Linked DNA regions of Homo sapiens. The protein of the gene in region 1 interacts with the protein of each later gene in a biochemical or structural test. Each region holds a gene or a part of one and is shown in the gene's direction. Other genes may lie near its edges. The genes, in order: SCYL1, CCNF, COPB1 and COPA.

Region 1 (7,988 bases):
GGAGGTTGCAGTGAGCCGAGATCGTGCCACTGCACTCTAGCCCGGGCGACAGTGTGAGACTTCGTCTCAAAAAAAAAAAAAAAAAAAAGATGTTGAATTGGTATAATGCACATATTCCAAAATCCAAAAAACATCTGAAATCTGAAACACTTCTGGTCCCAAACATTTTGGACAAGGGAGACTCAACCTGTACCTACTTCAAAGGGACCCAGTGAGGAGTCAGAATTGAAAATGTGTGGTATAGTGTTCTGTGCCCAGCAGGCATTTAGGGCCAGCTCTGGTTACTCCAGTCACTCCACGTGTACATTCTGGCTCTGGTCCCCAGGGGTGTAACACCCTGTACTGGCTGCAGGGGGGTGGGCAGCACGGTGTGGAGGAAGGTGAGGCGGACCTAGATCACTGTCCTCAAGAATCTAGCAAAAAGTAAACAGACCAGATCCCCAACCTTGGGAACTCTTGCTGGGGAAGAGACAGAAAACATAAAAACCATAAATAAGAGCCAGGTGCAGTGGCTCACGCCTGTAATCCCAGCACTTTGGGAGGCTGAGGCGGGTGGATCACCTGAGGTCGGGAGTTCGATACCAGCTGACGACATGGAGAAACCCCATCTCTACTAAAAGTACAAAAATTAGCCGGGAGTGGTGGCACATGCCTGTAATCCCGGCTACTCAGGAAGGCTGGGGCAGGAAAATCGCTTGAACCTGGGAGGTGGAGGTTGCAGTGAGCCAAGATTGTGCCATTGCATTCTAGCCTGGGCAACAAGAGCAAATCTCCGTCTCAAAACAAACAAAAGAACACCATAAATAAGAAAACCAGCCAGTGCGGTGGCTCCCGCCTGTAAACCCAGCACTTTGGGAGGCCGGGGCTGGCGGATTATTTGAGGTCAGGAGTTTGAGACCAGCCTGACCAACATGGAGAAACCCCGTCTCTACTAAAAATACAAAAAACTAGCCAGGCATGGTGGCGCATACCTGTAATCCCAGCTACTCCAGAGGCTGAGGCGGGAGAATAGCTTGAACCTGGGAGGCAGGAGGTTGCAGTGAGCCGAGATCGCACCATTGCACTCCAGCCTGGGCAACAAGAGCAAAACTCAGTCTTAAAAAAAAAGAAAAGAAAAATCCAGTGCAGGAAGGAAAGTACTGGAGTGGGTATTCAGGGATGGGCTCTCTGAAGTGTGACATTGGAGCTGGGGCCTGAAGGACATGACTGTGGGAGCCAGAGGGATGGTACCTGGAGTAAGAGTTCCAGGCAGAGGCGACAGCACGTGGAGAGATACTGAGGAGGGAGCCCTCTGCTTTGCCTCTGAACCTTGGTTTCCACATGTGTATAGTGAGGAGCATCTGGGTGCACTGGCCTGCAGGGTTGCTGTAGGGAGGAGGGAGGAAGGCTCTGCTCTATGCAATGCCCGGCCCCAGCCGTGTGTGGGGAAGACAGCGGGGGCTGAGAATCAGAATCAGGAGCAGGGGAGGAGAGTGGCAGACACTCCACAGACCCTGACCCAGCAGAGGTCATGGAATCTTGACTCAGATGCTGTGGGGCGGGGAGGGCCTTTGGAGGGTGGAAACCTGGAAGGAGAAGCTGCTGGAAACGCTGAGACCCCGTTGCCTCCTGGGCAGTGTCGGGGCAGCAGGAACTTTGTTACGTGGAGTTCTCCTCGTACGGCTGGCTCTGCCAAGCTACCCTTCTCCTTAAAGTGTACCCCATAGGAAATAGGGTTTCGGGAGCCTCCAGGAGAACATGGGAGGGCAGTGCCCAGGGGCCCCTCTTCCCATTGTTAGGTGGAGTGGTGGGGAGAACCCAGCTGCTACTCTCTTGATGTATGACCTTGGATGTGATTTAGCCTCTCTGGGCCTTGGCCCCGCTGAACCATGTGATCAGAGCACCAAGCCGGCCTCCCACGCTGGTCTGAGCTGCTCAAGGGCCATCTAGGTCCTCTTTGTCCCAAGCCAGAGGTCGCCTCTCCCCGGCCAAGCCGCGGCTATGGGGGTGGTGGTACAACAGAGAGCACAGGGACTTTGGAACACAACACTGGGTCATGACCCCTGCCTGGCCACTCTTGGCTGCTGACCTTGACCCTCTGTCTCCTCCTTTGTGAATGGGGGGAGTGACAGCATCTTTTGAAGGGTACAGCACAGGAGAGGTGCCAAACCAGTGAGTCAGACCCTCCTCTGACCGCTTCTTAGCTGTGTGACTTTGGACAAGCTCCTTGCCCTCTCTGTGCCTCAGCTTCCTTGTTGGTAAAATGTGGATTACATTAGCACCTACCTGGTAAAGTTGTGAAGAGGACTGAGATAATCTGTGTAAAGGTTTTAGCACATAATCTGTGCTCCAGAAATATGAATTGGGGGTATTATGGCCTCAAAGGGGGGTTAGGAGGACTAAAGGAGACCGTTGAGCTTACAGGCTGGTCCATTTTGGCTCAGTGGGAGGATGAGGTCTGGGAGTAAAGTGTACCTAATCCTTGCCTTCCCACGGCCTACCAGGAACTTCCTGCCCAATCCAGCCAGGGCAGGGAAACCAAGTAAGCCCCTTCACCTCTTTGATCTTCAGTTTCCTCCTCTGTGCTCACATCCTGGGTGGCGAGCAGTAGAGGCAACACTGATAAAGGGCCTGATGCCCTTAGTGATGCCTCTGCTGTCCCTAGTGGCTGCTCTCCCAGCAACAGGTCAGGTAGCCGCAATGGCAGCAACAGTCCCTAACCCACCGAGCATCTGCCGTGTGCCAGCCTGTTCTGCAGCTTTTATGTGCATTTTCTGGTTGAATCCCAGAACTATCCCGTAGATGGTAGAGCTGTTATCCCATTTTACATGGCAGGTAAGTGGGACAGTTGGGCTTTGAACCCAGGCAGCCAGGCTCCAGAGCCCATAAGGCCCATAAGCATCACTTCTCCTTGTCCTCACCCATGGCTGGGTTTGGGCTGCAACCAGGCTGATCTCTTCCCCGGGTCCCGTCCTCACTCCCCCAGATCAAAGAGCCAGCCGAGAAGCAAAAATTCTTCCAGGAGCTGAGCAAGAGCCTGGACGCATTCCCTGAGGATTTCTGTCGGCACAAGGTGCTGCCCCAGCTGCTGACCGCCTTCGAGTTCGGCAATGCTGGGGCCGTTGTCCTCACGCCCCTCTTCAAGGTGAGTGGAACTGTGGGGTCCAGAAGGCTGGCTGGGTGCACAGGAACTGCCAAAGAGAAGGCCCTGGGGTAGGGCAGGCTGTTTAGGGCAGACCCAAGCCCATATGAGCAGGAGCTTCCTGCCAGTGTCTATAAACAGGTACCTGACCAGCTGTCCCCTGGGGAGGAGAGACTCTGCCGCTAAAATCCTTTTTTCCACAAACCTCTGGCTTCACAACCCTCAGCCCTTCCTCCATTTCTCCGGGTCTGACCTGTGCACCTTGGTTCCCAGGGCCCAGGGGATTACCTACTCACCACCCCACTTTGCCCTCCTCCCTCCTGACTGCTTAGCACTCAGCTCACCTGACTTCTGGGGGCTGGATCTTCCACCCTTTCCTCAGACCCCAGCCCGCCTTTTTATGGGCACCTGGCATTCCCTGCCCTCCTCACCTTGGGGAGAACCCTTTCATCTGAAAGACTTGTCAGGAGGGGAGAAGACAACAAGCAAGTCCTGTATAGCTGAGAACCCCCAGAAATTGCAGGCAGAATTTCTGCATATGGCATAAAGGTACCTGTTTGTAGGGAGGGGCCCAGAGCTTTCATCAGCCTCCTGAAAGAGGCCTTGGCCCAGAAAGGTTAAGGGCAAGGCTGAGATGGAATATGGGTAGAGGAGCTACTGAGGAAATGCCTGCCCCCCCCTCCGCCATCACTTCATTCCCACCCTGGGATATCAGCCCCAGGAATTTAGATAAGCCCAGCAAAGTCAGCCCATTCCTGTGAGCAGCTGAACCCATCTTCCTGCCCTTTCAGGTGGGCAAGTTCCTGAGCGCTGAGGAGTATCAGCAGAAGATCATCCCTGTGGTGGTCAAGATGTTCTCATCCACTGACCGGGCCATGCGCATCCGCCTCCTGCAGCAGGTGAGGCCTCTGTACCAGACTCTGTGGTGGTCCACCCAGACCCCAACCTGGTGGCTGGGGAGGCACCTGCCCTGGCTGCACAGGGACCCCAGAAACCCCACCCCTGAACATACACACAACTGAGGGACCCAATGAGGCCAGGCTCTCAGAAAGTTGGCCACATACAGGGCTCCTTGGCAGTTTTGGGAATGGCCAGCTTGCCCAGGCTGCAGCGCTCTAATGCCCCCTCCTCTCCTGGCTCAGTCACTCTGGCCCTCTAGAGTGGGGATACAGTCTTTCTCCTGCAACCCCAGGGCAGCTGGGAGCATCAGACAAGATGGATGGGATCTAGGAAGTACCAGTGGCTCCCAGTGCCATTCCCTCTGTGACCACCAAACACACCAGTCCTCCTCGTGGCACTGTGGGCAGGTGGGGAGGAGCAGGGAAGGGGTGATACCCTCATTTATAGAAGAGGCTCAGGCTGGGCGCAGTGGCTCATGCCTGTAATCCCAGCACTTTGGGAGGGCCGAGGCAGGCAGATCACCTGAGGTCAGGAGTTTAAGACCAGCCTGGCCAACTTGGCGAAACCCCGTCTCTACTAAAAATACAAAAATTAGCCAGGTGCGGTGGTGGGTGCCTGTAATCCCAGCTGCTCAGGAGGCTGAGGCAGGAGAATTGCTTGAACCTGGGAGGCAGAGGTTTCAGTGAGCTGAGATTGCGCCACTGCACTCCAGCCTCGGTGACAGAGCAAGACTCTGTCTCAGAAAAAAAAAAAAAAAAAAAATAGAAGAGGCTCTGAGAGGGTGGCCAGATGAGCCGGACTATGAGCCAGGCCTTCCTAGCGCCCTCCTGGCCTTTCCTCACTCCTCCACCTGGGCCTGAGGCCAAACACCTGGGTGGTGGCTCAGGAGGTTGACCTGGCTGGCCAGTGCCTGCTGGGTGGAAAAGCTAAGCCAGGAGCGGTTCCATGGCTATGGGGATAGAGTGGGAAGGGCTGACCATGTTGACGCATCCCAACCTGGGCCACAGATGGAGCAGTTCATCCAGTACCTTGACGAGCCAACAGTCAACACCCAGATCTTCCCCCACGTCGTACATGGCTTCCTGGACACCAACCCTGCCATCCGGGAGCAGACGGTCAAGGTGGGTGTGGCCAGGCCCAGAGTGGCTACCCCTGGTTTTCCAAGGCTTGGAGGGGCTCACCCTAGACACAGAGGCCTTGGCTTTGGCCCATGGGTCCAAGCAGACACTGTCCTTGCTGTGTGGGTTCAGGCCGTGGGTGCAGCTCGGCAGCTGGCGGGGGAGCACGTCCTCCATTCAGCAGACAACGAGCATCTGCCTGTTCCTGGCCCAAGCCCCATGCTGGGAGGCAGCATGCATGAGGTGCCCAGCCCCCTGCACTCATGGAGCTTCCTTTCCAGGGCACAGAGGGTGGGCTTGCCAGACAATACAACAGAATTAGAAAATATGTATTGTTGGCTGGTCACGGTGGCTCACGCCCATAATCCCTGCACTTTGGGAGGCTGAGGCAAGCGGATCACCTGAGGTCAGGAGTTCGAGACCAGCCTGACCAACATGGCGAAGCCCTGTCTCTACTAAAAAGTACAAAACCATCTGGGGATGGTGGCGCATGCCTGTAATCCCAGCTACTCGGGAGGCTGAGGCAGGAGACTCAATTGAACCTGGGAGGCAGAGGTTGCAGTGAGCCGAGATCATGCCGTTGCACTCCAGCATGGGCAACAAGAGGGAAACTCTGTTTCAAAAAAAGAAAGAAAATATGCATTGTTGGAAAGTGTGGGGAGAAGAGTTTGTGGTTTTAAAAACAGTGGTCAGGGGCTGGGCGCAGTGGCTTACGCCTGTGATCCCAGCACTTTGGTAGGCCGAGGTGGGAGGATCGCTTGAGCCCAGGAGTTGGAGACCAGCCTGGTCATCATGGCCAAACCCCATCTCTACAAAAAAATACAAAAGTTAGGCGCGTATGGTGATGCACGCCTATAGTCCCAGCTACTCGGGAGGCTGAGGCAGGTAGGTAGCTTGAGCCCAGGAGGTTGAGGCTGCATTGAGCTGTGATCGTGACACTGCATTCCAGCCTGGGCAACAGAGTGAGACCTCATCTCAAAATTTAAGAAATTATTTTAGGCCGGGCCTGGTGGCCCATGCCTGTAATCCCAGCACTTTGGGAGGCCGAGGCGGGTGGATCACCTGAGGCGATGGGAGTTTGAGACCAGCCTGGCCAACATGGTAAAACATGGTAAAACCCCATCTCTACTAAAAATACAAAAAATGGCTGGGCCCGGTTGCTCACACCTGTAATCCCAGACTTTGGGAGGCTGAGGTGGGCGGATCACAAGGGCAGGAGATCAAGACCATCCTGGCTAACATGGTGAAACCCCGTCTCTACTAAAAGTACAAAAACAATCTAGCCGGGCATGGTGGTGGGCGCCTGTGGTCCCAGCTACTTGGGAGGCTGAGGCAGGAGAATGGTGTGAACCTCGGAGATGGAGCTTGCAGTGAGCCGATATCGCGCCACTGCACTCCAGCCTGGGCAACAGAGCAAGACTCCGTCTCAAAAAAATAAAATAAAATAAAAATTAAAAAAATTAGCCAGGCATGGTGGTGGGCGCCTGTAATCCTAGCCACTCAGGAGGCTGAGGCAGGAGAATTGCTTGAACCCAGGAGGCAGAGGTTGCAGTGAGTAGAGATCACACCACTGCACTCCAGCCTGGGTGACAGAGTGAGACTCTATCTCAGAAACAAAAAAGATACGGAGACGAGAGTGGCTCTGAGGCTTGTGGCCTGAGCAACTGGAAGGTTAGGAGTTGCTATTTACTGAGATGACACAAGCATGTTGGGCCCCATCTTGGCTGTTTCTGTTAGGCAGCTGGATGGAGATGTCGAGTTGGCCACTGGTTATGCATGTGTGAAATTTAGGGAAGTCTGGGCTAGGGGTATGTGCCTGGGGGTTGTCAGCTCACAAGATGGCATTGAAAGCCATGAAATGGCTGAGATCACCTAGGGCAAGAGTGTTAGATAGAAAAGAGCCCTCTAGATTGGCTCCGGGTGTGTGAACGTTAGAGTCTCAGCAAAAGGAGCAGCCAGCCAGGTCAGAGGAGAACCAGGAGGGGGTGGTGTCCTGGAAGACCAGAGACCAAAGTTTCAGGGAGGGAAAACTCAGGGGTGTCAGAACTGCTGAGGGTCAAGTTTGGTGAGGATGGAGAACTGGCTGTTGAAATTAGTACCGGGGAGGGCATCAGTGACCTCACCCTGAGCCAGTTTGGCAGAGTGTGGGGCTGTTTGTGTGAGTCTAGGTGGAGTGCCATCAGGAGAGCAGAGCAGAGGAAATGGGAAACAGGAGTGCAGACAGACTTTGGAGGTTTTGCTGTAAAGGGGGACAGAAATGGGGTCCCTTTCTTCAACATGCTGGACAGGGCCAGGCCCAGGCTGGGAGGTGGCCTTGCAGGCTTTGATGGGTGTGCTCTGGGATGAGGGCTGCCAGGAGGCTGTTCCTGCACAAGGCCCTTTGCCCGCCACAGCCCACAGTTCCCACTCATTTCTGCCCCACAGTCCATGCTGCTCCTGGCCCCAAAGCTGAACGAGGCCAACCTCAATGTGGAGCTGATGAAGCACTTTGCACGGCTACAGGCCAAGGATGAACAGGGCCCCATCCGCTGCAACACCACAGTCTGCCTGGGCAAAATCGGCTCCTACCTCAGTGCTAGCGTGAGTGTCCTGCACAACTGCTGGAGCCCGGTCCCTGTCGCAGGACCACAGCCTCCTCCAGGGCCAGGAGTCTTGTGTGTGGGGGCCTTCATTCTCCCAGAGACTTAGACCCTGCACGCTGTTGGCCCCATATCTGGGTTCCCAGAGGAGGAGTGAGTTGGCCGAAGTCACACAGTCAGGAGGGATCTGGGATCTGAATCCAGGCGTGCTTGGCCCCATGGCCTGTGTGCATCCCTTCAGCCAGGGTTTGTAAGTTCAGTTGCTTGCCG
Region 2 (7,988 bases), on another chromosome or scaffold:
ACTGAGGTGGGTGGATCACCTGAGGCCAGGATTTTGAGACCAGCCTGGCCAACATGGTGAAACCCCGTCTCTACTAAAAATACAAAAATTAGCCGGGCATGATGGTGGGCTCCTGTAATCCCAGCTACTCAGGAGGCTGAGGCAGGAGAATTGGTTGAACCCAGGAGGCGGAGGTTGCAGTGAGCCAGGATGGCGCCATTGCACTCCAACCTGGGCGACGAGTGAAACTGTCTCAAAAAATAAAAATGAAAAAGAATAAGGGAACAATGAACTCTGCTGGGATTTATTCTAGGATGAGGAGAAGCAGCAGCAGGCCCATGACCTGTTTGAGGAGGCTGCTCATCAGGGATGTCTGACCAGCTCCTACCTCCTCTGGGAAAGCGACAGGAGGACAGATGTGAGTGGTGCCTGCTCTGGGTCGGGGGGAGTTATGCTGGACAAAGGCGTAGTTGATGCTGGTCCTTGGATGCGTTTCTGTCCACAAAAGGGAGGTGGCTCTTGCTGCTCCCGGTCTCTCAGCCTCCGGGAACCACTGGTCAGTCGGCTATTCTTGGTACCCCCAAAAATGACTCCACCATTTGAGAGAGAAGAGGTGGGAAGTTAGCGTAGTGTCGGCCCTTCTGGGTCTTGGTTCTGAGTTCCTCCCAAGACACAGTTGTACAAAGGCTCGGTGATCTCCCATTGACAGGTGTCAGATCCTGGGCGATGCCTCCACAGCTTCCGAAAACTCAGGGACTACGCTGCCAAAGGCTGCTGGGAAGCGCAGGTGAGGTGCGGGGCTGGGATGACGTGGGGAGCTGGCCTTTCTCCCTCCAGCCTTGGGGCAGGACTATCTGGGCTCCCACATTGGGGGGCAGGACTATCTGGGCTCCCACATGGGAGGCCAGGATTGAGGGACACCCTAAGATCGGTTCAGCACTGGAACTGGTCCTAAAGGACAGGTACACTGTGAGAAGAGCTGGGAAATGCGTTATTCATCTCTGCCTATCCACTCTTGCCTCTCAGCCAGCCAACCTCTTAATTTTCAAATGCTTGTGAGCTATAGCTGCTGTCAAAATTTGTGCCATTCTTGAAAGTTGTCCCATAGGTAGAACTGATCTTGACAACAAAACTTGAGGCTACTTGAGAGCAGAGGGGCGTGGAGAGTCCCTTCCTGCTTCCTCTTCCTGTTAGCGCCTTGCTTGTCATGTCACCTGGTCACCAAGTCATCCAGGGCTACAGGCAGGAAATCAAGCATTGGTAGACTCTCCCCTCACAGCTATAAATAAGTTGTTAGGGCCAGGTGCGGTGGCTCACGCCTGAAATCCCAGCACTCTGGGAGGCCAAGGTGGGCGGATGACCTGAGGTCAGGAGTTCGAGACCAGCCTGGCCAACATGGTGAAACCATCGCTACTAAAAATACAAAAATTAGCTGGGCGTGGTGGCAGGCACCTGATACTCAGGAAGTTGAGGCAGGAGAATCGCTTGAACCCGGGAGGCAGAGGTTGCAGTACCACTACACTCCAGCCTGGGCGACAGAGCAAGACTCTGTCTGAAGGAAAAAAAAAGTTGTCAGGACGAATCAAAGAAAGCTCCTATTTGCCAAATGGATAGAAGCTTGTTCTTGTCACCCCACCAAGTGGGTGGCAGAGTGATCTGCGCTCAAATGCTAGGGACAAAATTACAAATTGATAATGGCCCAGCCCGAGGTGTCATAGCACATTGTGGTGTTCACGTCCAAAAAGCCAGTCTACAGATTTACAAGAAGGCCAGACGTGATGGCTCACGCCTGCAATCCCAGCGCTGTAGGAGGTTGAGTTGGGAGGATCGCTTGAGCCCAGGAGTTCAAGACCAGCTCTGGCAACATAGTGAGACTCCATCTCGACAAAAAATTTTAAAATTAGCTGGATGGGCTGGGTGCAAGTGGCTCATGCCTGTAATGCCAGCACTTTGGGAGGCTGAGGCGGGCGGATCACGAGGTCAAGAGGTCGAGACCACCCTGGCCAATGTGGTGAAACCCCGTCTTTACTAAAAATACAAAAAAATTAGCTGGGCCTGGTGGCATGTGCCTAGAGTCCCAGCTACGCGGGAGGCTGAGGCAGGAGAATTGCTTGAACCCAGGAGGAGGAAGTTGCAGTGAGCCGAGATTGTGCCACTGCACTCCAGCCTGGCAACAGAGCGATACTCCATCTCAAAAAAAAAAAAAATTAGCTGGATGTGGTGGCGTGTGCCTTGTAGTGCAGCTACTCAGGAGGCTGAGGCAGGAGGATCACTTGAGCCTGCGAGGTCAAAGCTGCAGAGAGCCGTGATCGCAACATTGCACTTCAGCCTGGGCTACAGAGGGAGACCCTATCTCAACAAAAACATTGTTTACAAGAAATGCAACAACGTAGTTCTCGTGGAAGTTCAAGGGGCCTCAGTCAATTCTCACAAAAGAGGAAATAGGGCCGGGCGCAGTGGCTCACATTTATAATCCCAACACTTTGGGAGGCTGAGGCGGGAGGATCACTTGAAGCCAGGAGTTCTCTCTGTTGCCCAGGCTAGAGCACAGTGGTGCGATCTCAGCTCACTGCAACCTCTGACGCCTGGGTTCAAGCCTTCTGAGTAGCTGGGACTATAGGTGCCTGCCACCACGCCCAGCTAATTTTTGTATTTTTAGTAGAGGTGGGGTTTCACCATGTTGGCCAGGCTGGTCTAAAACTCCTGACCTCAAGTAATCTGCCCTCCTCGGCCTCCCAAAGTGTTGGGATTACAGGAGTGAGCCACTGCACCTGGCCAAAAAAAATTAATAATAAATAAATAAACTCAAGTGGTTAGAAATTGGAATGTTCAACCTTACTACTAGTCATAAGAGTGCACTTTTAAATGAGATATTTTGGGCTCATGATATTAGCAAATTATATATATATATATATATATATATATATATATATATATATATATGTTTTTGTTTTTGTTTTGTTTTGTTTTGTTTTGTTTTGTTTTTGATGGAGTCTTGCTCTGTTGCCCAGGCTGGAGCGCAGTGGCACAATCTCGGCTCACCACAAGCTCCGCCTCCTGGGTTCATGCCATTCTCCTGCCTCAGCCTCCCAAGTAGCTGGGACTACAGGCATTGCACCACCACGCCCAGCTAAATTTTTTGTATTTTTAGTAGAGACAGGGTTTCACCATGTTAGCCAGGATGGTCTGGATCTCCTGACTTCGTGATCTGCCCGCCTCGGCCTCCTAAAGTGCTGGGATTACAGGCTTGAGCCACCGCACCCAGCCCTTAATTATATATATATAATATCCATAATTAGATATATTTATAATATCTATTATTATATTATAACATAATTATATTTAGTCTGCCAGCTATTTATAATATATAATATTATATAATATAATATTATTATATATAATATATAATATTATATAATATAATATTATTATATATAATATATAATATTATATAATATAATATTATTATATATAATATATAATATTATATAATATAATATTATTATATATAATATATAATATTATATAATATAATATTATTATATATAATATATAATATTATATAATATAATATTATATATAATATATAATATTATATAATATAATATTATTATATATAATATATAATATTATATATAATATCATATTATTATATAATAATTATATATAAATATGTATTTATATATTGTATAACATATAATTATATAATAATTATAATAATATAATATATATCATATATAATATTATATATTATATTCTATAATATATAATATATTCTATAATATATGTAATATTATATTCTATTATATATAATATATATTATATTATATATATTATATTATAATTATATATTATATATTATATAATATATAAATATATATTAATATATATGATTATTATATATTATTATATTATATATTTTTATATATTTATATATTATATATTATTTATGTTAATTATATATTATATAATTATATTATATGTTCTATAATATATAATATAATATTATGTTATAATATCTATAATATATATTATAGATATATTATATATAATAGATATTTTTATATATAATATATTACATATTATATATTATATGTTTTATATTGTATATAATATATATTATATATAATATATATATAATATATAATATATATATATTTCTCTGTTTTTGGGTGGCTAGCTGGTAACTTCTGAAAATAGCTGTTTTTAATAATCACAGTGTTTGCTGGGATGAAGCTGTGATGAGGCAGGTGCTCCTATTCCTGGGTGTAAACATTGGCAGAAGCCTTTCGGAGAGCACTGGGGCGTATGGCCAGAGACTTAACACAGCTTCCCCAGGCATTAGCCATGTAAGAAACTGAGACCTGAGCCACGGTGGAAAGGCCACTGACATTTCATTATATATCTTTTCTCATGTCATCTATTACTTATACAAAAAGGAATAATAATTAAAACCTGAGCCATCCTTGTTCCCGAAGCTTGTGAAGGTTTAAGTTAAGTAGGGCAGTGTGTCCACATGCATTTGGTGCCTGAATGGGCCTTTGCTTCAGAAATGGAAAACTGCAACATGGCTGCTGTCTCACGCTCATGTTTGTCTTTTCTTCCTCAGCTGTCTTTAGCCAAAGCCTGTGCAAATGCAAACCAGCTTGGACTGGAGGTGAGAGCTTCCAGTGAGATCGTCTGCCAGCTATTTCAGGCTTCCCAGGCTGTCAGTAAACAACAAGTCTTCTCCGTGCAGAAGGGACTCAATGACACAATGAGGTGAGGCATTCAGGCCGGGGCTTCTAATCAGAGCGGCGCGGAAGCCAGCCTCCAGGGGAAGGGAGCCCTTTCCACTTAACCCCAGTTACCTGTGACAGGGCGGCATAGAGTTCCCTTATCACCCTTTTTTTTTTTTTGAAGTGGAGTCTCGCTCTGTCGCCCAGGCTGGAGTGCAGTGGCGCGATCTCAGCTCACTGCAAGCTCCGCCTCCTGGGTTCGAGCAATTCTCCTGCCTCAGCCTCCCGAGTAGCTGGGACTACAGGCACCCACCACCATGCCCGGCTAATTTTTTGTATTTTTAGTAGAGATGGGGTTTCACCATGTTAGCCAGGATGGTCTCAATCTCCTGACCTCGTGATCCGCCCGCTTTGGCCTCCCAAAGTGCTGGGATTACAGGCGTGAGCCACCGCGCCCAGCCTTGGGTGTTTTTTAAAACCAGTAATGCCAAAGTTATCGTGGACTTTTTGGAAGAAAATATCCTACTCTGCTTTCTTCAGTTACTTTTTTTTTTTTTTTTGAGACGGAGTCTTGCTCTGTCACCCAGGCTGGAGTGCAGTGGCGTGATCTCGGCTCACTGCAAGCTCCACCTCCCGGGTTCACACCATTCTCCTGCCTCAGCCTCCTCAGGAGCTGGGACTACAGGTGCCTGCCACCACGCCCAGCTAATTTTTTTGTATTTTTAGTAGAGATGGGGTTTCATCGTATTAGCCAGGATGGTCTCAATCTCCTGACCTCGTGATCCGCCTGCCTCCGCCTCCCAAAGTGCTGGGATTACAGGCGTGAGCCACCACGCCCAGCCACCTTTTTTTTTTTTGAGACAGGGTCTGGCTCTGTCACCCAGGCCAGAGTGCAGTGGCATGATTTCAGCTCACTGCAGCCTCCGCCTCCCAAGCTCAAGAGATCCTCCCACCTTACCCTCCTGAGTAGCTGGGACTACAGATGCACACCACCATGCACAGCTAATTGTTGTATTTTTAGTAGAGACAGGGTATCACTATGTTGCCCAGGCTAGTCTTGAACTCCTGGGCTCAAGCGAACCTCCTGCCCCAGCCTCCCACAGTGCAGTGATCTTTTTTAAGCCACAGAACACATTGAACATCTTTTTTTTTTTTTTGAGGCAGGCTGTCTGTCACCCAGGGTGGAGTGCAGTGGTGTGTTCTCGGCTTGCTGTAACCTCTGCCTCGGGCTCAAGCCTTTCTCCTGCCTCAGTCCCCCAAGTAGGACTACAAGTGTCTCCACTCTATTCAGAAAGGCATTTACCATATTGGGGCATCATTTACCGTATTGGGGCATTCCCTTGCGACTGTCCACCTTCTCCCGCTCCCTGCACGCCCCGAGGGTCAGGGTTCATCCACTGTGGGCAGACCAACGGCTGTGGGCTGACTTTTCACTTTGCGTCAGGTCGAGGTCTCAAAGCGCTTGTGTTTGGGAGCACCAGGAACACAGTCGAAGGATGTGGGGCCTGCTTTGGGGCTGGGACCCACGGAGCCTCCCGGGCTTCCTGTGACATGGCCTCTCCAGCCTTGGTTCCAGGGTAAACCCATGATTCCAGAGCTAGCCAGCTTATTTGGTCGGGCCCAACAGGTGGGGTTGAAATCGCAGACAGGGACACATGGAGAACGCCCCCACCAGTTCCCACGTGCTTCTCTTTCCGCAGGTACATTCTGATCGACTGGCTGGTGGAAGTTGCCACCATGAAGGACTTCACAAGCCTGTGCCTGCACCTGACCGTGGAGTGTGTGGACCGGTACCTGCGGAGGAGGCTGGTGCCGCGGTACAGGCTCCAGCTGCTGGGCATCGCCTGCATGGTCATCTGCACCCGGTGAGAAGCCCCCTTGGCCCAGCTGGCAGGGACGTGCTGGCCTTTCCCGGGTTCAGGGTCACCTGCCCTTCATGTGCTCCTCACTGGTTTGGTTTTGTTTTGTGTTGTTTTTTTTTTTTTCCCGAGACCAAGTCTCGCTCTGTCACCCAGGCTGGAGTGCAGTGGTGCGATCTTGGCTCACCGCAACCTCTGCCTCCCAGGTTCAAGTGATTCTTCTGCCTCAGCCTCCAGAGTAGCTGGGACTGCAGGCGTGCGCCACCATGCCCGACTAATTTTTTTGTATTTTTAGTAGAGACGGGGTTTCATCATGTTGGTCAGGCTGGTCTCAAACTCTTGATTTCAAATGATCCGCCCGCCTCAACCTCCCAAAATGCTGGGATTACAGGCACAAGCCACTGCGCCTGGCCCTCACTGGTTCTTGACTCATGAGCCACGAGTGTCCCACCTGGTCAGACATGGAGTGCCACGCTGAGGGCCTTTTGCAGGCAGGGGTGGCAGAACAGCCTTCAGCGTGTGGGGGCCGCTGTGTGGGGTGCCTGCATCCAGGCAATTCATCCTGGCATGCAGTCTCAGGACCCAAAGTGTGGCCTCGCTCTGGCAGGCACAGGCTGGACTGCCCTGTCCCCTGGCTCCTGAGGGCAGCAGGATGACTGATCAGGGAGGGTGGCAGTTGGCTGCCCTTCTCTGAAGTTGGGTTCTAAAGTCTGTTGCCAGAGTTTCCTACACTCTTGGAGTTAGAGAGTTTTTCGTCCCCCACTGGTGCCCTGCAGAGCCCACTCCAGCCACGTGGGTGTCTCTCAGCAGCAGCGTGCGTCCTTACACGGCAGCCTGTCCTTTTCAAATCAGACCACTGCTTTCCTTTAACTAATGCTGGATCCCCTAGTTCCGCCTTTGGAAATAACGTGGAAATGATTCTCACAATACGATTTGCATTTCCTAAACCAGCTGTCCCCAGCATGGTCTACATTTCCCGAGGAAGTGCTTTCCAGACCGACTCCTCTGTAGAGCCTGGTGGGTGAGGATAGGCTTGGCTGCACACAGCATATGTGTAAGCTACAGAGACTTGTTTCTTTCTTGCACAGGTAACCCAGAGGCAGAGGTTCCAGGCTCAGGTCATTGGCATGTTTTTTGTTTCATGAGGAAGCAGAGGAGCCCCATCTCCCATCTTAATCTCTGCCACCAACTAGGGTGCTGCCCTTGTCCCTGTGACACCTGTACCTGCCACATTCACCTTTGCACTGAGCTTAGTCTTGTGACCACATCTCACCAGACGGGAACTGGGAGGTGTAGTCTCTTCGGGCCTGTGTGTGCCAGCTCGATGCAGTGTCATTCCCATGGAAGGAGGGAGCAAACCCTGCCACAAGCATCCAGAGCTGTCTTCAGATGCGCTCTTGGGCCTGAATCCAGCGTCCCAGGTCTTCCGACC
Region 3 (7,988 bases), about 51 Mb from region 1:
TTTTGATTTTATTTTTGTGTAAGTTGAGAGATGGGGGACAAGTTTCATTCTTCTGCACATAGTTTTCCAAGCACCATTTATTGAAGGGACTGTCTTTTCTCCAATGTATGTTCTTGGCACCTTTGTCAAAATGAGTTCACTGTAGGTGTATGGATTTGTTTCTTGGTTCTGTTATTTTCCATGGGTCTTTATGTCTGTTTTTATGCCAGTACCATGCTGTTTTGGTTACTGTAGCTATGTAGGATAATTTGATGTCAAGTAATGTGATTCCTTCAGTTTTGTTCTTTTTGCTTAGGATAGCTTTGGCTATTCTGGGTCTTTTGTGGTTCCATATAAATTTTAGGATTTTTTTTTTTTTTCTGTGAAGAATGTCATTGGTATTTTGATGGGAATTGCATTGACTCTAGATTGCTTTGGGTGGTATGGACATTTTAACAATACTGATTCTTCTAATCCATGATCATGGAATATCTTTCCATTTGTTGATGTTCTCTTCAATTTCTTTCATCAGTATTTATAGTTTTCATTGTAGAAATCTTTCATTTATTTGGTTAAATTAATTCCTAGGTATCTAATTTTATCTGTGGGTATTGTAAATGGGATTAGATTACTTCTTCAATTTCTTTTTCAGATTGTTCACTGTTGTCATATAGAAATGCTACTGATTTTTGTATGTTGATTTTGTGTCCTGGAACTTTACTAAATTTATCATATTTCTGAATTTTAAAAATGTATACCGTGTCTCCTTTTTGTGAGTGATTCTGTCAAGAAAAAAAAAATTTATAATTAATATGCTTTCCAAAGTAATGATTCTTGTTTAATTGAACTGCTAAAAATAAATACAACTTAAACTGATAAATATTGTTTAAACAGAGCAGAGTGAAAATTATGCTTCAAATATAGAAAGGATCTTTTAGAAGATAGTTTGCAGTTTGAAAAGAAACTTAATATTTTACTTGCCTATTCCCACTTCTTAATCAGCAGTAATGGAATACCTCCTGATTCTAGGTTACTTAATACTAGGTTTCTATTGAGGTCTATTTTTAGAGAAGGGAAAAGAAACCCAGTTTTATGATATTTAAAATGATACCATTATATACATAAGCCACATATATTTCCCTTTTTTCATGTTCATGTAGGATAGTTGAATGCAAAATAGTGAATACATTCATTAGTGTTTTTCCTCATAATTTAAAAATTTTCATTGTTAGATCCTCAGGATACCTAAGGTTATAGCTAGGAAGGTAAAGAATAAAATCTGCCCTTAGTTGGAACAATGCCCTAGTCTTAATTGAAGCTGCCTTAGCTACCTTCCTCCAACCAATAAATAAATACATACTCTCCAGTTTAATGTATATTTTTGCCATTAAGAAGAGTTGAGACTGGGCATGGTGGCTCATGCCTGTAATCCCAGCACTTTGGGAAGCTGAGGCAGGTGGATCACTTGACTTCAGGAGTTCGAGACCAGCGTGGCCAACATGGCGAAACCCCATCTCTAGTAAAAATACAAAAATTTTAAGTGGCTATTAAATGAAGAGTTCTGTGGGCCAGATGAACCACCGCATCTGACGCTCAGAACTCTGTTTCATAGCCGCTTAGCTCTAATCATTAGAAATGTATTTCTCATATTTAGGCCCAAATCTGGTTCCCGGTAACTACTACCCATTAGTTGTAGTTCTTTTCCTCATAATGGCCCTAAGGTTATTGAAGACTTGTAATCATTCTTTGTTCTCCCCTTCCCAAGATAATTCATTTATTTTGATGATCTAAACAGTTGTAGTACAGTGTGCTACTACATACTTCTCTGCCTTTGAGTTTTGGATCCAGAAGATTTTTAGTACTATAAATTCTTCAGTATGCAATGATAATGGTGTGAAATTTTAGATAGTTTTGCGTAAAATACTTTATGTTGCAGAGTTTTTAGGCTAAATAACAGTAAACTAGCATTTTATCTTTAATGTGTCATCCTTAATTCTAAATAATGACTACTAATCTAGAACATTTGAATTACCTCCCAGTTTTCCAGATGATATCTTAAGAAAGATTCTAAAGTTTTACAGCCTGCCTGCAGAACTATGATGAGATTTTAGAAATAATCCACTACTTTAGTTTTCAGCCTTTTTGAGTATGACGTTTCTCTTTCTAATGTTAAAAAAGTTACATATTTATCCTCCCATAATAGTAGTTTTAACTTTGTTAAAATGCACACAAATAGCTAAAAGCTGTTTTGAATTCAAAATCAATTAATAGTATGTATTTACATTTTGAAAAATAGCTATATGTGTTTTGAAACACGTTTACTTGGTATGACTGTAGATTCATGGAGCCTGCATTAACTCAATTGGTTAGGAACCAGAAATCTAATCCAGCGCCTTCATATTATATATAAAGAGTCTGATTTCCAGAGATAAATGACTTGAGCAAAGACAGATTATTTGGTGGAGAACCAGGTGGAGAACCTTGTCACTTGGGTTTGTACTTTTATTACCATTGCTGATACTGAAGTAAGAAGGTACATTTTATTTTGTTAATTGCTTTTAAATTTATGTGATGAATTTTCTTTTGAAATAATTGTGCTTTTTTTTAAAAAAATTTTTGATTCAGAAAAAGGAGATGTAAAGTCAAAGACTGAAGCTTTGAAGAAAGTAATCATTATGATTCTGAATGGTGAAAAACTTCCTGGACTTCTGATGACCATCATTCGTTTTGTGCTACCTCTTCAGGATCACACTATCAAGAAATTACTTCTGGTATTTTGGGAAATTGTTCCTAAAACAACTCCAGATGGGAGACTTTTACATGAGATGATCCTTGTATGTGATGCATACAGAAAGGTAAACCAAATCATAATTATTTCTGAATATTGCTTTGAATTTAAATGTAAAATTGGTAGAATGGGCTGTGTTTTAATTGTTAAAATTGAGTCTTTGATAAGATGTAAGTTGTAGAGATTTGGAATTGTAAAAGAGTTATTTTTAAAAGTTTTATTGTCACTTTTCAGACATTTTCTATGCATTTTATGTGTATATATTAATTAAAAAACAGTGACACACATATAAGACATTGATGAGATAGGTAAAAATTGCTTCAGTCAACAAGAATATGATGGAAATTGTCGGTAATCTAGGTTTTTTCTCAAACGTATTTTTTTTCCATTGGAAAGTTTTGCATTAAAATTTTCTTTTTGTAAAAAGCTGAAACTCAGCATTTCATATTTTAATTTTTATATCAGGATCTTCAACATCCTAATGAATTTATTCGAGGATCTACTCTTCGTTTTCTTTGCAAATTGAAAGAAGCAGAATTGCTAGAACCTTTAATGCCAGCTATTCGTGCATGTTTGGAGCATCGACACAGCTATGTTAGAAGAAATGCTGTTTTGGCCATCTATACCATCTATAGGTAAATAAAGATACTGCTTTGGCTTCATTCTGTGAGTACTGTTTAGTCTTTTAGACTAGTGGTTCCAAAGTGGTTGCTTGCAGACTGAATATAGCTTGAAGATATATTTTGTATGGCCAGCACTGTATTTTTTATTATGAACATTGAAAAGTCAAAAGATCTGGCAGCGCTGTTCCTAGCTTCCACAAGACAACATTCTGCTGAACTTGTATAACAGTAACCCCCTTTAAATAAGTTATATACTTTACAGTTTATGACAGTGCTTGTCATTCTCAACCGTATTACTCCAAGCCACTTTATATGTTCACTTGCTTAGCCTCTATAGGCTTTTAACTTTGGTCCTTGTTTTAGAATTCGTTTTGTGGAATGTCGGTCTTTTTACTGTCAGAAGCTTTGAGGAAGGAACTTTTTAAATGAGAAGGGCTACAGTTATAACTGAGTCCAATTCTTAGAAAGCTGAAGATTTTGAATTTTTATTTGTTTTTGTTTTGTTTTGAGATGGAGTTCCACTCTCGTTGCCCAGGCTGGAGCACAGTGGCGCGATCTCGGCTCACAACAACCTCCACCTCCCGGATTCAAGTGATTCTCCTGCCTCAGCCTCCCAAGTAGCTGGGATTACAGGCACCCACCACCACGCCCAGCCAATTTTTGTATTTTTAGTAGATATGGGGTTTCACCATGTTGGCCAGGCTGGTCTCGAACTCCTGACCTCAAGTGTTCCACTCGCCTTGGCCTCCCAAAGTGCTGGGATTGTAGGTGCAGGCTGCCACGCCCGGCTGAGATTTTGGATTTTTAAACCAATTTAAGGAACCAGTTAGATGAAGCTAGAATGCTCAGTTTTTACAGTCACAGGTATCAATTTATTAAGGACTACAATGTAATTTTTATAAGCATCTTTGTACTTTAGTAGATTTGTTGGTTAAGATATAATTTCATAGTTATCTTACTGTTAGATTTTATCCATTAAGGAAAGTGGTATTCTGGTTAATAATGTAGATGAGCCAGGCGTGGTGGCTCATGCCTGTAATCCCAGCACTTTGGGAGGCCGAGGCGGGCCGATAACCTGAGGTCGGGAGTTCGAGACCAGCCTGACCAACATGGAGAAACCCCGTCTCTACTAAAAATACAAAATTAGCTGGGCGTGGTGGCACATGCCTGTAGTCCTAGCTACTCAGGAGGCTGAAGCAGAAGAATTGCTCGAACCTGGGAGGCAGAGGTTGCGATGAACCGAGATCGCGCTATTGCACTCTAGCCTGGGCAACAAAACCAAAACTCCATCTCAAAAAATAATAATAAAAATAATAATAATAATAATAATGTAGGGTGAGTTCCTTTAATGTTACCATACAGACTACACAAATTTCAGAATTTAAACTATAGTGCACATAGAAAAATTAGGCCATTTATAGGACAATTGGAAATGTGAACACTATGTCTTGATATTAGGAAATTATTAATTTTGTGAGGTGTGATGATGAATAATTAGTTTTGCAAGTAAAGAGTCCTTGATTTTAGAGAAACCTACCAATATATTTACAGAAGAAAGGATACATTGCCTGTGATTTGCTTCAAAATAATATGGCAAGAGGTAAATTTGGCAAGGATATAGATGAAACAAAACTAGCTATGAATTATAATTGTTGAAGCAAGGTGATGGATTTTATTAAGCTAGTGTTCACTCTTCTCTGTACTAATATTTCTAAATTTCCAAAAGAAGAGGCAAGTCAGTAAGCAAATAGTACACAACTAATAAAATTCAAGGGACTATGTTTTTCCTCTTAATGTAATTCTTAATATATTGATATGCTTAAAATGTATGCACAACAGTTATTAGAGACATTGGTTAACAGATGGTGTGTTGAATAAATCAGCTTTTTCTGTATTGAACTAGAAAACGTATAATTTGATAATTTAATAGATGAAGGTATAACTTTGTGTTTCCTTCTACCAGTTCCTTTTTTTTTTTTTTTTTGAGACAGAGTTTCACTCTTGTCGCCCAGGCTCGAGTGCAATGGCACGATCTCAGCTTACTGCAGCCTCCACCTCCCAGGTTCAAGCAATTCTCCTGCCTCAGCCTCCCAAGTAGCTAGGATTACAGGCATGCGCTACCACGCCTGGCTAATTTTGTATTTTTAGTAGAGATGGAGTTTCTCCATGTTGGTCAGGCTCATCTCAAACTCCCACCCTCAGGTGATCCGCCCACCTGGGCCTCTCAAAGTGCTGGGATTACAGGTGTGAGCCACTGCGCCCGGCTCCTTCTCCCAGTTCTAATTGATTTGAAGTTTCAAAAAGCAGGCCGGGCGTGGTGGTTCATGTCTGTAATCCCAGCACTTTGGGAAGCCGAGGTGGGTGGATCACTCGAGGTCAGGAATATGAGACAAGCCTGGCCAACGTGGCAAAATGCTGTCTCTACTAAAAAAATAACAAAAATTAGCCTGGCATGGTGGCACGTGCCTGTAGTCCCAGATACTCAGGAGGCTGAGGCAGGAGAATCACTCGACCTAGAAGGCGGAGGTTGCAGTAAGCCGAGATCACTCCACTGCACTCTAGCCTTGTCTGGGCACGGTGGCTCACACCTGTAATCCCAGCACTTTGGAGGCCAAGGTGGGCAAATCATGAGGTCAGGAGTTCAAGACCAGCCTGGCCAACATGGTGAAACCCCATCCCTACTAAAAATACAAAAAATTAGCTGGGCATAGTGGTGGGCACCTATAATCGCAGCTACTCGGGAGGCTGAGGCAGGAGAATTGCTTGAACCCTGGAAGTGGAGGCAGCAGTGAGCTGAGATCGCACCACTGCACTCCAGCCCAGGCAACAGAGTGAGACTCTGTCTCCAAAAAAAAAAAAAAGCAAAAGTATGTTGTAAAGTTTGATTAAATTTAATTTTGGTATTGTCCAGAGAGTTACTAAAATAGTAAAGTAGGCTTTTATTAAATATGGATGTTACCTGTTTTATTTAAAGAAATTTTGAACATCTTATACCTGATGCTCCTGAACTGATACATGATTTTCTGGTGAATGAGAAGGATGCAAGTTGCAAAAGGAATGCATTTATGATGCTAATTCATGCAGATCAGGTGAGGTACTTTTTAAAAAATACTCTTATTACTGTATTTAAGTGACAATTGAAAGTATTACATAGACTTAATCATGTTTTTAGTCAGTAATTTTGTTTATAGTTCATGTGGTTTGTGTATTTTGAAATTTTTAAGCTTGTAGAAAAATACATTTTTTTCTTAACCCTTCTCTAAAATATTGCATATGTATACATTCTTTTTTCAATTAAACATTGAAGAGGCATTTTAGAGCAGCCACCCTACAGTTTTTAAAAATTAAAATTATTATGACTGTTCTTTCCTATGATGGTATAGATCTAAAATTGTTTAGTAGAGAAAAATAGTAGCTTTGCATAGATACATCCTTAGCCATGCCTGTGGAAATAGGGTGGCCTTCAGTGTAGAGGTGTATCCTTTTAGGTTCTTCAACTTTCATACACGGGTGCCAACTCCACATCCTGCTCTGCTGGTGGTTAAAGTACATGGATCTACTTTTGGTTAGCAATTACTCTGTACACCTTGATGCCATCTAATCTTGAAATTTTCTAGCCAGTATTTATCACCAAAATATGGGAAATAATATGCATGAAGTCTGAAAAATATGGAGGCCTTCCAGTCCTCTGAAATCTAGACACTGTGACTTTTTTCCCCCAGATCTTCCTTTAATGGATTGTCCCCCAGTTATTTAAAATTGTGGTAACATACACATAACAAAAAAATTTACCCTCTTAACCATTTTTAAGTGTTCAATGATTTTAAATACATTTATAATGTAGAACCATCACTATCTTCCATCCTCATAACTTTTTTTGTCTTGCAAAACTGAAACTCTGTACCCATTAAAAAATAGCTCCTTATTACCACTTCCTCCCAGTCCCTGGCAGCCACCATTCTACTTGCTGTCTCTGTGATTTTGACTAAGTATTCCGGATAAGTGGAATCATACAGTATTTGTCCTTTTGTGACTGGCTTATTTTACTTAGCCTAATGTCTTCAAGGTTCATTTATGTTGCGGCATGTGTTGGAATTTCTTTCCTTTTTAAGGCTAAATAATACCCCATTGTAAATATATGCTACATTGTGTTTACCTGTTCATCCATTGGTGGACACTTGGGTTGCTTCAATCTTTTAGCTATTAGGAATAATGCTATTGTGAACGTAGATGTACACGTATCTGTTTGAGACTTTGCTTTCTGTTATTTTGGGTATACACCCAGAAGTGGATTTACTGAATATACAGCAATTCTGTTTTTAATTATTTTAGGAAGTGCCATACTGTTTTGCACAGCAGCTCTACCATTTTACATTCTCACTAGTAGTGCACAAGGGTTCCATTTTCTCCACATCCATGCCAACACTTGTTGCTATTGTTTTTTTGATAGTAGCAATGTTAATGGGCACGTGAAGTGGTATTCAATATTGTCATTTTGTCTTCCTAAACAAGATTATGAGAAAGCTGCGTATATGAGCAGTGTTTTGTCCTCTTGTGTAATTGGTTTTACTGACCAATGCTTTTGGCATTATGCTGTT
Region 4 (7,988 bases), on another chromosome or scaffold:
AATATTCTTGTGTAGGATGGGCTGAAGATTCCTAGGAAATTAATGTTTTTCTTTTTGTGTACCTTTTCTAGGACTGGGGTTCAGACTTTCCGCAGAGACCATGATCGTTTCTGGGTCCTAGCTGCTCACCCTAACCTTAACCTCTTTGCAGCAGGTAAGGGCCATTTTCTCTCTTTTTTCTTTGCTTAATTCAAAGTTTATAAGTCTTGAAAGTGATTATTAGCTTTGTCTCTAGTAAATGTATAGTAGGATGACAAGAAGAAGAAGGACTCTCAGAGCCACTTAGTTGAAGCTTTTCTCCTTTTTTTCTTCCACTTTATATGTACGTAAAATGATGTGTGGTGAAAAATGCTTTGAAGAAAAATTAAAGGTAAGGCAGATAGAGACAGATGAGTATGGGGACTGCTGCTTTATATTGGGTGGTTCAGAAAAGTGAAAGGGTATGAGGCAATGGGAACAGCAAATGCAGAGACTGTGTTGTGAGAGGTGCTTAGCATGTCACCATCACATGCTAAGGAACACCAAAGAGGCCAGTTGGAGCACAGTGAGTAAGGGACTGAGTAACAGGTGAGGTCTGGCCAGATCGTGTATTGCCTTCTATGCCATGGTTAGAACTTAAGATTTTATTCTGAATACATGGAAAGCCATTGGAAGGTTTTGGGCAGGAAAGTGACATGATCTGGTTTATATTTGGAGAGCAGACAGTAGGAGAACAAGAGTGGAAGGGTTTTCTAAGGGATGATGGTGCTAGTAGGGAAAGAGCAAAACATTTTAAAAAACAGAATCACAAAGGGTTTTTAACATCCATTTTTTCAGTAAATACTTCTTATACTCTTTTTATATGCTAGAGACTGGGGAAGGATGGAAATTATAATTTCTGCCTTCAGGGAATTCATGTTACAATGTGGGTGATAGACCTAAATGATTACAGTGCAGGATGATAAGTACTGTAATGGAGGTTTGTACAAAGCATTAGGGGAACACAGAAAAGGGCAGTGTGGATAGTGACACTAAGTGTGGCAGTGTGAATAGTATTAGGAAAGGATTCACAGAGAATTATTTAAATAAAGATTCCAAGAATTGTGAGAATTTAGGCAAATAAGGGATGCATTCAGGTGTCTTGTCTTACAGATATAATCTTCATCCTTACGTATCTCCAATTTCCAGGTTTTTTTCTTGCCTACAGCTTAATTTTTTCTCCTCCTCTCCCTGTCCCCCAGGCCATGATGGTGGTATGATTGTGTTTAAGCTGGAACGGGAACGGCCAGCCTATGCTGTTCATGGCAATATGCTACACTATGTCAAGGACCGATTCTTACGACAGCTGGATTTCAACAGCTCCAAAGATGTAGCTGTGATGCAGTTGCGGAGGTAAATCGGACTTGTTTCTTTCCTCCAAACCCTCTCATCTGTCACCCTGATACAACTCCCACAAACAAGACTCTTCTTTTCTTTCTTTCATTTATTTATTTTATTTATTTAATTTTTTTTTGAGACGGAGTCTCGCTTTGTCGCCCAGGCTGGAGTGCAGTGGCGCGATCTCGGCTCACTGCAAGCTCCGCCTCCCGGGTTCACACCATTCTCCTGCCTCAGCCTCCCAAGTACTGGGACTACAGGCGCCCGCCACCACGCCTGGCTAATTTTTTGTATTTTTTAGTAGAGACGGTTTCACCATGTTAGCCAGGATGGTCTCAATCTCCTGACCTCATGATCTGCCTGGCTTGGCCTCCCAAAGTGCTGGGATTACAGGCGTGAGCCACCGCGCCCAGCCTATTTATTTATTTTTAAATTTTTTTTTTTTGAGATGGAGTCTCACTCTGTCACCCAGGCTGGAGCGCAGTGATGCAACCTCAGCTCACTGCAACCTCCACCTCCTGGGTTCAAGCAATTCTCCTGCCTCAGTCTCCCAAGTAGCTGGGATTACAGGTGTGCACCACCACACCTGGCTAATTTTGTATTTTGAGTAGAGACGGGGTTTCGCTGTGTTGGTCAGGCTGGCCTCGAACTCCTGACCTTGTGATCCGCCCACCTCGGCCTCCCAAAGTTCTGGGATTGCAGGCGTGAGCCACCGCACCCAACCAAGACTCTTCTTTTAAATGACATTTTGGATCTCGTATTCTGTCACAGATGGAATCCCCATTAGATGAGCCCGCTCAGTTTAAACCCAATGAGTGAGGGAGGCAAGGAAGTGGTCATGAGTAGAATGATAGTTCCCTTCTTGAGAATGCTAGTGACCTTGTGGATGGAAAATCATTCTGCCACAATTTGCTGGGTCTCTTGCAAGCCAGAGGAAGTTTCTTGATAGAGAATGGCCCAAACTGGTAACAGAACTTTTCGCCTTTGTTTGGCATTTCTTTTCTTTAACTCTCCCTTGCCTTCCAGCAAAAAGTGCACAACTCTGAACCAGAATATATGTCCCTGGAAACTCTTAATTCTGAAGATACAATAACCTCTGGGATGCCTGGCAAAAGGACCTGTCCTTTTGAAAAGCCAGCTGCATCAGCATGCTGAAACATTCATGGTGGCAAAATTTGGAATGAGGTTTTGATAACCACCCTTTAGCATCATTACAATAAAAAAATGGGTTTATGTGAATACTCCAAGGGACAGGAGAAACCAGCCAGAGACAAATCACATTATGTTACTCTGTGGTGTCCACTGCAATTACGTGTAGGAATTTGTATCCAAGCAGAACCAGTCCCACTCACTACAGTGAGTGTTAACCCTACCTACCTTCTGTTGAATAATTTGACTTCTACTATGGCTTACTTTTTAAAACTGTTTGTTCAAAGCTGAGCTAGGGAAGTTGCCAAGCCTTAAAGGAAGAGAATACAATATTTATTCATTTTATTCCTGATTATAAAAGTGATGAGTATATAGTGTAAAGATTGGATAAGTAGGAGGTGTGGGGGTGATTCCTTTCTTCCTTCTATTCTTATGCCTCTTCCCTGTTTTCTCCTTTTTCTATATATATCTCTAGTGGTTCCAAGTTTCCAGTATTCAATATGTCATACAATCCAGCAGAAAATGCAGTCCTGCTTTGTACAGTAAGTAACCTGTGGAGCCCTCCTAGGTTCTCCTCATTTTCCATAGGTCTCTTTCTTATGCCCTTAGGGAATCTTTAATGGCTTCTTAGAAACTATTTAATGGTCATTTTGTGAGAGCTGACACAGTGATCACTCAGAGACTCAAATCAGGTAGGTTTCAGTTGTCGTAAACATATTGAGCATTTGTGAACTGCCTATCTTTCCTAAAGCTGAACTTAATGGAGCATCAGAATGAATGACCCAGATCACTAGAAATAATTTGAGAGAATGTTTAGACTATATATATATATTTCCTATGGAAAGAAAATGTTTACCTTGATCCCTTCCTTTGGGTGAAAATAGAAGAACTATTATTTTGAGAGGAAGTTCATATCAGTGGGGTTGGCTTCAGAGTCATCAATGACTCCTCTCTGTTTCTTGCAACAGAATTTGCAAAAAAAAAAAAAAAAGAAATGACATTCTAATTTTAGTGCCCTCGTGGCCAAGTTAAAAGGAATGAAGTTAAATGTCTTTCCTCATATAACTATATTGTCTAATCTGTTCTTCTTTAATATCTAGTAGTCCCATACTCTGAGTTTTCTTGAGTGTTTTTTCTTTTCTTCTTTTTCCAATAAACATTTGCATTCCTATAGTGTCTTTTCTTTGATGTCTTTTTTTTTTCCTTTCCAGAGGTTGAGTACTCAGTTGATGAGTCCTCAGGGTGGGGTACCAGAATATCAGGGTCCTAGTCTGTTAATTTGTGGAGTAGAGAGCATTTCTTACTTTCATTCAGATAATATCTGCATCTTTGGAGGATAAAGAAAATAAAGTGACATCAGTGCTGATGTGTTTGGCAAAGAGCCCTATAACTCATAGATGTAGAAACAGTCAAATGCCCTCTGGGTGAAGGGTAAGAAAAGTATGGTTTCAGATTGGTGTCTGTGCAATGGAACTGTTTTCTCTGTCAGAGTAAATTGGAAAACTGGTATCTTGGGTGCTTCTCACTAACATTTTAATTTCCCCTTTTCTTCTACAGAGAGCTAGCAATCTAGAGAATAGTACCTATGACCTGTACACCATCCCTAAAGATGCTGACTCCCAGAATCCTGATGGTAAGTGTTCTTTTTGTCTACCCCACTCTGCTTCCAGCTCTCCTCACCCGCATCATAACTCCTCTTCAAGTTTTTCACATTCCATCCCCAAGCCATGGCCACATCACTCATGTCTGTTGGCAGGTGCTGCTGACAATTGCATCAGAGGCGACCATGGTGTGAAATATTCATGTTCCTCCTCCATTTTATTACCCCAGCTAGATATATATATTTTATAATTTGGTTATTAGAAACTCTCCATTCTCTCTTTCAGCACAGCATGTTATCCTAGTTTATTGTCAGTTGATATGACTTTCACCCTGGTAGTTTCATTTATTTAAAAATGTGGTTCCAATCTTATAATGCCTCATCCTGGGACTAGGGATTTATACTGTCCTATCCACATCCAGATCCGATTTGCTTCCTTTTGCATGTCAAAAAGATGAGGCTGCTAACAGCCCCACACCCCACCTGGGATCCCAGGATCCAGCTGAGACTCCTGCCTACCTCTTCCATTACCACTATCCCTTGTTGATGTCCTTGTGATTAGAACTTGCTGACAAAACATTCTCAGAATGGATTTGACTATTGCCTATGGTCTTTTGGGTGCACTTCTTCCAGCGGGTTTATGGCTAGTACCAGGTCAGAGATTTATTCTGCAGATCCCCACTCTTACTGGCATATTTTAATGATATTTTAGACCCCATCAACAGATTCCTAAGAAATAATTTGCTAGCTCTGTTTCTTTTGTGGGTGCCCCTGGGTTATTATTGTTGCTAATCGATCTCCTCTCTTTTAAATGTGTTCATAGTGAGAGAAAGAAAAGATATTTGTATTTGGTATCCATAAGTCAAAGTCTCCCTTATAAATTAGTCAGTTAAGCCATTTCTGACTAAATCTTATGGTTTGGTACCTCCCAACTAGCTCTTTGCTTTTTTTTTTCCCCATCTGTGTTTACAATTAATAGAATTTAAAATATTTTGTTTTGTTTTATTACCACTTTTATTTTCTGTACTTCATTTTTTGAGGGAGATAATAATAAAGGAGCAGCCCAGTGGTGGGCAACAGAGATGGGCTTGAATAATGCAGATTCCTGGCCCCTGGAAAACGGGAGTGTTGGTTTTGATAATAATTAGTTTCATAAATTGCCTGCCACTCCAGATGCCAGGGGCAAGACTGGCCAGCATGTTCTCTCCAGTTTTCTGCTGGTCTAATAGGTAAAAGAGTATTTTGATGCACCCTTCTGTTTATCCTTCTACAAGTTTCCCAGAGAATGGAGTGTCCATTTCAAAATTCTAATAAGCCACTGAACTGAGGAACATTTTGTAACTCTCTTCAGGGTGATAAGAATGGTCAGTTGACATTTACAGAGCAACAACTTGGTTCTAAATACCGCCCAGCACCAAGCTCTCCTGTCAAGATTTAGTTGGGAGTGCTCTGCCTCACCCTGCCCTACTAGGAAGTCTGCATTTGCATGTTAAAAGCAGCAGAGAGCAGCTGCATCCTGTGGAGGGGGTCCTATGACACAGGCTTGCTTTGCCGCAGCTTGGCCAGGGAGGCCCTGCTCGTTAGCTTGATGGAGTGTGCTGTCTCCCAAGATGGGCGGCCCTTCTGCCAGTACATGATGTTGGCTGAAATGCAACCACTTGGCCTAGAGAAAAGAGCCTTGGCAGGGGTGGTGGTTGGTGTTTGGAGGGGACTGGTGGGGAAAAGTCACTCAATAATAGCCCCAGGTTATGGCTGAATTAGTTAGGAAGCAGCTCAACTGGCAAAGCCAAGATGGCATCCAGCAAGACTGGCAGCTCCATGGCACCCGACTATGTCACCTGCCAGTGACTCACCACATGCTCCCACCCTTTGGTTTTGTTCTTCTCAGCGCCTGAAGGGAAACGATCCTCAGGCCTGACAGCCGTTTGGGTCGCTCGAAATCGGTTTGCTGTCCTAGATCGGATGCATTCGGTGAGTTAAGACTAAAAGCAGAAACTAATTTGGGGAGTGTGGTGGCAGTGGCCTGTGTATTGCAAAATAAAGACCATTGTTTTTTCTGTTCTCCCCCGGGCAGCCGTGATTCTCATGTATTGGCTGTACCTCTGTCTCTAGCCCTACACTAAGCCCTCTTGGGGGAATGGCATTAAAACTGATTTGATTGGGTTGATGATCGCCGTGGCTCTGGGTTTAAGAACCAAGCTAAAGTCACTCTTGACTACAGGAGCCCAAAACGCATCAAATCTGAAGTGAGTGGGCTGGATGAGGAAATTTCCCTCCTTCTGCTGCCTCCATTGTTACTTGAAATGTAATAGGTCCAGCACAAGATAAAGCACTCTGAAGAAAATATTTAACAAAATTTAAGCCCCAGAAACAGTGTTTTCTCTCTCTCATTCATTGAGAAATTCAGACTTTAGTTGGGACTTCTCAGGATGTTTTAGTTGGAGGAGAAAAAATAATGTATTAAGGCCCTTAGAGAAGATCTTGGTTGGCATGGTCTGTCTGCAGTGGTAATTGACATGGACAGGACAAAAAATACTTAGTTAATTGAAGCTAAGGAACAATTGCTGAGGAACATCATCAGTTGTCATCATCATCTATACACATTTCTTCTCTTAACCCCATCTTTAATACTTATTGCAGCTTCTGATCAAGAATCTGAAGAATGAGATCACCAAAAAGGTACAGGTGCCCAACTGTGATGAGATCTTCTATGCTGGCACAGGCAATCTCCTGCTTCGAGATGCGGACTCTATCACACTCTTTGACGTACAGCAGAAGCGGTAACATATCAGGTGCCCCTAAGCAGACAGCCCTGTAGTTGGGGAGAGTGGACATCTTTAGTGGGAACCTTTTTTCCCCAAGTGAGTTTGTCTTGTGGCTTGGCCACTTCTTGTGCTCCAAGACTCTTTATAGTAACTTTTCCCTTCTGTGATCACTCTCCATTCTTCACGTCCACACTAGCATTACAGTGAGATTCTTGGTTATTTATCTGTTTTTACAGTACTTACCTGAACAAAGCGTGTTCTCCGAGCTTAGAATGAGAGAGAGACAGAGATTAATAACATAGTTCCTACATTTAAGGGAGCTTGCAGTCCAGTGGTGAAAACAGACATACACAGATTCCCTAATAATACAAGGAAATGAGGGAGAGGGGGTTGAGGAAGGGGTAAGTGCACAATGTGAGCCAAAATGTTTAAGTCACTGAGCTACTATGTAGGAATTACATTAAGTATTTTATGTAATTAGAATTACATTAAGAAATTGGGGTTTACATTAATTAGAGGGTGCAATTGATGTAGATCAAAGCCTGAGACAAGGGAAATAGATCCATTCATGTTTGCACATCTCTATCTATCTCAGGACTCTGGCATCTGTGAAGATTTCTAAAGTGAAATACGTTATCTGGTCAGCAGACATGTCACATGTAGCACTACTAGCCAAACACGGTGAGTCTTCATTATATCCACCCTGATTTAGAGACCATTCCCTTCCACCCCGATCCCTGCCAGTCTACGGCACTTACCCTATCCAACAGAACACTCATGCCCTTTGCCTCTTACAGCCATTGTGATCTGTAACCGCAAACTGGATGCTTTATGTAACATTCATGAGAACATTCGTGTCAAGAGTGGGGCCTGGGATGAGAGTGGGGTATTTATCTATACCACAAGCAACCACATCAAATATGCTGTCACCACTGGGTAAGTTAATTATCTGGGATACAGAATGGGAGAAGACAGCTTCCTGAAATCACTGTCTTGTCTTGAGATGTAACTGAAGTCCTCCATGAATTTTCTTCATGGAAAAGCCTTACCTGGCATATATGTGCAAGGGGCATCAGAACATTCTTTTTTCAACTTTTTTAAAATTGAGAAATCTAAAA

Evidence for each region.
Region 2: the proteins of SCYL1 (region 1) and CCNF form a complex in vitro, tested with the Homo sapiens proteins (one study listed by BioGRID).
Region 3: the proteins of SCYL1 (region 1) and COPB1 form a complex in vitro, tested with the Homo sapiens proteins (one study listed by BioGRID).
Region 4: the proteins of SCYL1 (region 1) and COPA form a complex in vitro, tested with the Homo sapiens proteins (one study listed by BioGRID).

What each region holds. Positions count from the first base shown.
Region 1 is NC_000011.10:65,527,664-65,535,651, forward strand, and holds part of SCYL1 (N-terminal kinase-like protein), read left to right. Parts: intron 1-2,965; coding exon 2,966-3,124; intron 3,125-3,912; coding exon 3,913-4,020; intron 4,021-5,028; coding exon 5,029-5,142; intron 5,143-7,563; coding exon 7,564-7,719; intron 7,720-7,988. UniProt on the Homo sapiens protein: Regulates COPI-mediated retrograde protein traffic at the interface between the Golgi apparatus and the endoplasmic reticulum. Involved in the maintenance of the Golgi apparatus morphology.
Region 2 is NC_000016.10:2,439,061-2,447,048, forward strand, and holds part of CCNF (cyclin-F), read left to right. Parts: intron 1-292; coding exon 293-397; intron 398-688; coding exon 689-766; intron 767-4,588; coding exon 4,589-4,740; intron 4,741-6,331; exon of another isoform or gene 6,332-6,397; coding exon 6,398-6,562; intron 6,563-7,988. UniProt on the Homo sapiens protein: Substrate recognition component of a SCF (SKP1-CUL1-F-box protein) E3 ubiquitin-protein ligase complex which mediates the ubiquitination and subsequent proteasomal degradation of target proteins.
Region 3 is NC_000011.10:14,489,056-14,497,043, reverse strand, and holds part of COPB1 (coatomer subunit beta), read left to right. Parts: intron 1-2,604; coding exon 2,605-2,834; intron 2,835-3,232; coding exon 3,233-3,402; intron 3,403-6,364; coding exon 6,365-6,479; intron 6,480-7,988. UniProt on the Homo sapiens protein: The coatomer is a cytosolic protein complex that binds to dilysine motifs and reversibly associates with Golgi non-clathrin-coated vesicles, which further mediate biosynthetic protein transport from the ER, via the Golgi up to the trans Golgi network.
Region 4 is NC_000001.11:160,305,251-160,313,238, reverse strand, and holds part of COPA (coatomer subunit alpha), read left to right. Parts: intron 1-71; coding exon 72-154; intron 155-1,220; coding exon 1,221-1,371; intron 1,372-2,980; coding exon 2,981-3,047; intron 3,048-4,062; coding exon 4,063-4,138; intron 4,139-5,993; coding exon 5,994-6,076; intron 6,077-6,745; coding exon 6,746-6,885; intron 6,886-7,465; coding exon 7,466-7,551; intron 7,552-7,640; coding exon of another isoform or gene 7,641-7,667; coding exon 7,668-7,806; intron 7,807-7,988. UniProt on the Homo sapiens protein: The coatomer is a cytosolic protein complex that binds to dilysine motifs and reversibly associates with Golgi non-clathrin-coated vesicles, which further mediate biosynthetic protein transport from the ER, via the Golgi up to the trans Golgi network.